Linked DNA regions of Homo sapiens. The protein of the gene in region 1 purifies or fractionates together with the protein of each later gene. This does not show direct contact. Each region holds a gene or a part of one and is shown on either strand. Other genes may lie near its edges. The genes, in order: RNF14 and PNPLA7.

Region 1 (3,817 bases):
CTGAGGCAGGAAATCACTTGAACCTTGGAGGCAGAGGTTGCCGTGAGCTGAGATCATGCCCCTGCACTCCATCCTGGGTGACACAGCAAGACTCCATCTCAAACAAAACAACAACAACAACAACAACAACAACACCACCACCACCTAAGTAGGCTGTACTTCTGCTGAAGTCTATAAAAAAGTTGGTTAATCATTCTAAGAGACGTCCCCTTCAGATGCCAACCTCACACAAGAATAAGCTAGTGATTCCCCAAGGTTTATGGGATCCTACTAGCAGATATACAAAGTAAATTATCACAATTACTTAATAACTACTTTAACACTCATCCTTGCCCACTGCAAGGCCAAAGGAAGCATTCCATTTGCTTAAGCAGTAGACTAAGACCATAGCATTTTTAATGGATACAGCAAAACAACTTGTGGGCTGGCTCCAAGGCCTCGGACTGCCCCATGAGCCCTATCAAGGAAGTTCCTGAGATGATATCTCCATTTATGGAAGAGAATTAGGAGGCAACCATCAGCAGGGTAAACAGTTACCTGACCAGGAGTGGCCACCGAAGGGCACTTTGGTTCTGGGCAGTTGAGGCATTGAACCTGGCCATCTCTGATCTGGATTTCAAAGTAGTCCTTCAGACAGGCTTTGCAGTACACATGCCTGCACTCCAAGAAGTACATGCATTCACTACCCAGCTTCTCACAGAAACAGATACTGCACAGGAACAATTTACTATTAAAGCATTTTATCTGCTGAGCTTGATCAAAGTCCAAGATTTCCTGGATCAGATTTGACAGTGATTCCACATCCTGCACTGCTCTCTCATCCACAATTTCCTCTTGGTCTACATCAGATCCAGCAGCTCCTCCAAAATCTAGCTCTGTGTTGGGAGAAGCTTGAGCTGTCCTTCTCTGCACTTTTTTCTGAGAACCAATCTTGAGCTCAAAAGGAGAGACAATATTCAAGTATGCTAGGGTCTCTTCCTTAAGAAATTGCATCCAGGCAAACAGGACCACGCTGCCACGGTGTTCTTCCCATAGGTTGTCTAAGTGCTTGCATAGAGCAGATAGCTAGGAGAAAACACATGAAGATGTTGGTGAGTTTGGAAAGATGATGCTGCTGCCAACTCCTGGTTTCCCTAGAAATCTTTTCCACTTGCAAGTTAGGCCCTTATTCTAACACTATTTTTTACTGCTGTGATACACTGTGCTACATACAAAACAGTACAAACATTCTTACTGGAGCACTTCTTAAACTATTCGGCAACATGAGCCAGAGTAGAACATAAAGTCAGAAGCAAGAAGTACCACGAGAAGAAGAGAAATAGCAAGACTCCGTAAGGTAGAGAAATAGCTGTACATTTTAGCCACTGAAATGGAAGACTTTTTTCTGTTCTTTAATCTTTTAGTACTGCCATATACCTCATGTAGGACAAAGAGATCTAGTTCTAAAAATAAACTATTTTTCTTCCATTAGGAGTCCTAGCCCTGTTCGTATCCTAGAATAATGGTTAGAAAAAGAATAGTTTAAAAATACTATCCAAGTTTTAAAATTAATTCTTTCAGTTTTATCAAAAAGTCAACTCATCTGAAACAATCACTAACAGAATTCAACCTCAGAGTCCTTGTTCAGATTTACAAGCTGCTTTTAAGTAAGCAATCTGGGCTTATATCAGATCCTGGTTAATGGAGGGAAGCTGCCTGATATTGACCCTGGTCCTAATCACAAGCCCTCAGCAAGGTTTGGCAGCCATAGAGAAAGCTTACACTTCCTAAGCTAAGCAACCAAAATTAAATTATTTGGAATTTTCCTCTTTAAAAGTGGTCTGTTCAATTTGAAAGGCAAATGTTGGAGAATTTTCCATTAGAAATATAAAATATTTTTAACTAGAGCACAGGAATTATAAGCAGCTTTTCTTTTTTAGGTAAACATCCAAAAATATGCCTTCCAGATGGCAAACAAATTTTGTAAATTTAAATGACAAATGAAAAGGGACCAGATTTTCTGTTTCTTACACTCTGTGTAGTGCCACTGACTAAACCCTGCATAGGTACTACCTTAAATACTTATTGATGAGTTAAGATTGAACAACTAATGATTTTTCACATTTGCATAAATATCCTTATAAATCAACCATGCTTTTGAGAAATCTGCTAACATCTGTAAAATGTGATAAATACTAAAAGGGAAGCTATGAGTGCTGTGTGAGCTACCAAGTCCTATGAAGAAGCCATTCTCCAACCTCTTTTCTACCCCAGTCCCTTCTCAAGAGAGGCAGCTGGGGCTGGGCGTGGTGGCTCATGCCTGTAATCCCAGAACTCTGGGAGGCCAAGGCGGGTGGATCACCTGAGGTCAGGGGTTGGTGATCAGCCTGGCCAACATGGTGAAACCCTGTCTCTACTAAAAAATACAAAAAATTAGCCAGGTGTGGTGGCGGGCGCCTGTATTCCCAGCTACTTGGGAGGCTGAGGCAGGACAACCACTTGAACCCACTAGGCAGAGGTTGTAGTGAGCTGAGATTGTGCCCCTGTGCTCCAGCCTGGGTGACAGAGCAAGACTCCATCTCAAAAAAAAAAAAAAAAAAAAAAAAAAAAAAGAGAGAGAAAGGCAGCTGGAATGCATGTAAATGGAAGGGGGACGGGAAAGAGACTGTGTAAGTATATTGGGGGAGGAATAAGGAATAAGGTTTTAGAAAACTAAAACCACTTCCCTCTGTCTACCCGCCCCAATTCAGGGAATGACAGCTCTATGTGTCAATTTCACCATTAACAGGTGAGAGTCATAATGCCAAGGAATCAGGGTACAGCAACAAACAAGAACTGAACCAAGAAGGAATATAAGAGACCAATTAAAATGTTAATTATATGCATAAACATTTATTTGATTAAGAATTCTACTGTAATTTTAGCTGTAACACATAAAACAACTCTCTTCCCCAGCACACACCTCCGCCCCCAAATCCAGCATTAAGTAGATGCTGGTTGGCTGGAATCTGAAACCACAACCACGCATCCAGTTAATCTGTCCCTGTTTTGTGCGTGTGTGTGCATGCACGTGCATGCACGCACATGCGTGGATGTAAAGTATGAAAAGCTCTCTGGTGAAATAGGACTATGAAGATCTAAATAATTAAGCCAACTATCAGTGGCCTAAATGCCAAACAGTCTTGATATTCCTGGACAAATCAACTGTCTTGCATCTGTTGCCTCTGGCACAGACATTAGAATGTAAAGTAATACTCCTTTTTATTCTACCTGTGTTATCCTTTTTAAGGTTTAATTTTGCTTTTAAACCATAAGCTCTAGTTTGTGAAAGTACTCTCACTTAAAAGATTAGATTGGTGGATGGGGAAATGAAAACTGTATGATCCAAAGAGAAAAACTAATGAGCTATTCCTTGAGGTCAGCAACTCTGACATCTTTTGTCTTTTTCTTTTTTTTTTTTTTTTGAGACAGGGTCTCTGTCTGTCACCCAGGCTGGAGTGCAGTGGCTCAGTCTTGGCTCACTGCAATCTCTGCCACCCAGGCTCAAGTGATCCTCCCACCTCAGCCTCCCAAGTATCTGGGATTACAGGGACGCACCACCACACTTGGCTAATTTTTGTATTTTTTGTAGAAATTGGGTTTCGCCATGTTGCACAGGCTGAGCTTTTGTCTTAATACACATTAGTCTATTGATCTTCATTATGACTTCTAGAAAAGCAGCTGCTGATTCATTATCTCTCCCAGAATGCTTTATATTATTTATATTTAGCTTCAAGCCATATTTATGTCTCAATCAAGAGTTGAGGTTGTTACTAGAAAAGTATATATAACCCAGAGG
Region 2 (3,817 bases), on another chromosome or scaffold:
GACCACCTCCTACCACCATCTCCATCACCTCAGACCCGGGCACGGATCTGACCACCTCCCACCACCATCTCCATCACCTCAGACCCGGGCACGGATCTGACCACCTCCCACCACCATCTCCACCAACTCAGACCCGGGCACGGATCAGACCGCCTCCCACCACCGTCTCCACCAACTCAGACCCGGGCACGGATCAGACCACCTCCCACCACCGTCTCCATCACCTCAGACCCGGGCACGGATCAGACCACCTCCCACCACCGTCTCCACCAACTCAGACCCGGGCACGGATCAGACCACCTCCCACCACCGTCTCCACCATCTCAGACCCGGGCACGGATCAGACCGCCTCCCACCACCGTCTCCACCATCTCAGACCCGTGCACAGATCAGACCGCCTCCCACCACCGTCTCCATCACCTCAGACCCGGGCACAGATCAGACCACCTCCCACCACCGTCTCCACCAACTCAGACCTGGGCACAGATCAGACCGCCTCCCACCACCAACCTGCATCTGTGCCTTCTCTGTGGTGCTCCTTTGCCTCACAAGCTGCACTGGGAGGCTTCAGGGGGTAGCCTCCTCGAGGGCAGGGCCCTGCAGAGCCACATGCAGAGGCCAACGGCCCCAGCGTCCCCCAGCACCAGCAAGGACCTGGGGGCTGTGCTCCGGTGAGGGTGATGGGTGCCTGCTTACCTCGGCCCACTGCTTGGCCCGGATCCGCATCTGGCTGTAGTTCCGCTCCTCAGAGTACAGGGCACCCACGAAGGCCCCGATGGACGTGCCTCCCACCATGTCCACAGGGATGCCGCACTCCGCCAAGGCCTTGAGAACGCCCACCTGGGCACAGCCTCTACACCAGCCAGGGACACAGAGCAAGGAGTGAGTACCAGGCCCAGGCTGCGCCCTGCAGAGGCCTTGTGCTCATCCTCAGTTCCCAACTCCTCCACAGGCAGAGACGCTGACGCAGAGAGGGACTCCAGATGCAGTTTAAAACCCCTCTTTCCGGGCTCACGCCTGTCATCTCAGCACTTTGGGAGGCCAAGGCGGGCAGATCACTTGAGGCCAGGAGTTCGAGACCAGCCTGGCCAACAGGGCAAAATTCCATCTCTACTAAAAATACTAAAATTAGCCAGGCGTGGTGGTGCGCGCCTGTAATCCCAGCTACTCGGGAGGCTGAGGCAGGAGAATCACCTGAACCCAGGAGACAGAGGTTGCAGTGAGCTGAGATCACACCACTGCACTCCAGCCTGGGAGACAGAGTGAGACTCTGACTCAAAATAAATAAATAAATAAATTAATTAAATAAATGAAATCCTTCCTTCTGGAGGTACTGAGGGACTGTGAGGCTGGGATGGGGAGGAAGGTGTCCTGAGAGTTGACCGGCATTGGCCTCTTCTACCCGGAAACACGGCTGCCTCCAGCAGGGCGTCTGAGAGGTGGTGGGAAAACTGGACTTGAGGGGCCCTGGAAGGGAGGAGCCTGGGAAGCATCCTGAGGGGCAGCACCCCAGGAGTCAGATGAGCTGGATGTAGACCAGCACCCATGAGACCAGGGAGCACCCCCGAGACCAGGGGGCACCCCCGAGACCAGGCAGCCGGCACCCAGGGCCTCTAATTGCTACTGCTGCTTTCATACAGAATGTCCACCACTCAACCAAAGATTACCAGTCATATGAGAAGAAAAGCCTCATATAGGCTTTCCTTTTGGCCTCATAGCCAAAAGAAAAAACAGACAATGAAAGTGGGCCCAGAGTGCCTCCCAGGTAAGAGATACAGACACAGGCTTTTACAATGACCACGCTTAAAGTGTGCAGGGAGCCAAAAGGTGGCAACAGCTGATGAATGGGTACAAAGTAGACAAGGGAAGAGCACCCAGCTCTAAGGAGGGAGCTCGGATGCAAGCCACAGCTGGGGGGGACCCTGGAGGCATTTGCTGTGGTTTAGCTCTCTGTCCCCACCGAAATCTCATGTTGAATTTTAATCCTCAGTGTTGGAGGAGGGACCCGGTGGGAGGTAACTGGATCATGGGGGCAGATTTGAGGTGGGAAGACGTCAAAGGCTACACTGAGCTGACGTCACACCACTGCACTCCAGCCTGGACTGGAGTGAGACCCTGTCTATAAAAAAGTTCTGGAAATGAACAGTGGCAATTGTTCATTTCACGACATTGTAACAACATTGTATCATTAATTATATTAATATGATATATTAATACTTAATTGGATACTCAAAAATGGTTAAGTGGTAAATTTTATGTTATGTATATTTTAACATAATAAAAAAAACCATATGTAATACTGCCACAGAATATTACTCAGGTATAAGCCTTAAAAACAAGTTCAAGTTGGGAGGTGGAGGTTGCAGTGAGCCAAGATCGCACCATTGCACTCCAGCCTGGGCAACAAGAGCAAAACTCCGTCTCAGAAAAAACAAAACAAAAACAAAAACCCAAGTTCAAGGAATTAAAAACAAGAGTGTTAATTCTGGCATAAAACCAAATGAAAATTCTAGAAGTGAAAAATATAATAACAAATGAAAAGCTCAATGAGTGGGTCTAACGGCAGAACAGAACAGCTGAAGAGAGAAATGGTAAAATACAAGATGGGTCAGAAACAGTCACTGAATCATGAAGCATCAAGAGGACAGAATATGTAACAATATTGTTTTACAAAATCTGTAAGGGAGTTTAGGAAACATGGGATCTGGCACCAAACTCTAATGTATGTGTGATCAGAGCCACAGAAAGCAGACAGGGAGGGAGCTGTATCTGAAGAGACAGTGTGGCATGTTCTACAGACAGACATCAGGCCTCAGAATCAGGAAGCATGATAAATCCTAACATAAATCAAAAGAAAACCATTCTCATGTTGTCAAAAACCCAAGGAAAGAAAAAACCTTTAAGCGAGCCTGAGAAAATAAAAGATGCGTTACCTTAACTTTTCTATCCTCTGAGTGGTTGTGAGAGAGTATATATTTACTATCTGTTTCTTTATAGACAATGTCTGCTCGTCTAAATGTTAGGGAAAAAAGAACAACTTAAATAAAAGAGTAAAATTAAGCAAATAACAAAGATAAGAGCATAACTTAAAGAGCCAAAAACAAACATAGAGAAGATTGACAAAGATGAAAGTTGGTGTTGGAGGGACCAATTCGACGGACAGCCCGGGTGAAGCCGATCAAGGAAATGAAAGAGAGAAAGCATCAATGATGAACAGGAAAGAAAATGGGAACATTGGTGCAGATGCTTTAGTTTAAAATACTGAACAGCTTCATGCCATAAATAGAAAAATTCAGATAAAATGGGCACATTTTTAGAAAAACCTAACTCACCAAAATAACATAAGAAATAGAACATATGAGTAGTACTGTAACTCAGTAAAGATTAAATAAATTTAATCTATTTATTTTTTATTTTTATTTTTAGACAGGGTCTAGCTCTCACCCAGGCTGGAGTGCAGCGGTGTGATCACAGCTCACTGCAGCCTCAACCTCCTGGGCTCAAGTGATCCCCCTCCTGCCTCCGCCTCCCAAGTAGCTACGACCATATCACACCCAGCTAATCTTTTCATTTTTTATAAAGATGGGGTCTCACTATGTTGCCCAGGCTGGTCTGGAACTCTCGGGCTCAAGAAATCCTCCCTCCTTGGCCTCCCAAAGTGCTGGGATTACAGGTGTGAGGCACCGCGCCTGGCCTCTTGGAAGGTTTTATGTAAAATTTGTTTTATTTATTCCTTATACGTTTCATAAAATTCACCAGTGAAACCATCTGGATATGAAACTTTCTTTGTGGGGATTTAAAAGTTACAGATTCCATT

Evidence for each region.
Region 2: the proteins of RNF14 (region 1) and PNPLA7 purify together in Homo sapiens (affinity purification with western blotting; one study listed by BioGRID). This does not show direct contact.

The regions. Positions count from the first base shown.
Region 1 is NC_000005.10:141,975,551-141,979,367, reverse strand, and holds part of RNF14 (E3 ubiquitin-protein ligase RNF14), read right to left. Parts: intron 1,066-3,817; coding exon 538-1,065; intron 1-537. UniProt on the Homo sapiens protein: E3 ubiquitin-protein ligase that plays a key role in the RNF14-RNF25 translation quality control pathway, a pathway that takes place when a ribosome has stalled during translation, and which promotes ubiquitination and degradation of translation factors on stalled ribosomes.
Region 2 is NC_000009.12:137,466,621-137,470,437, forward strand, and holds part of PNPLA7 (patatin-like phospholipase domain-containing protein 7), read right to left. Parts: intron 854-3,817; coding exon 697-853; intron 1-696.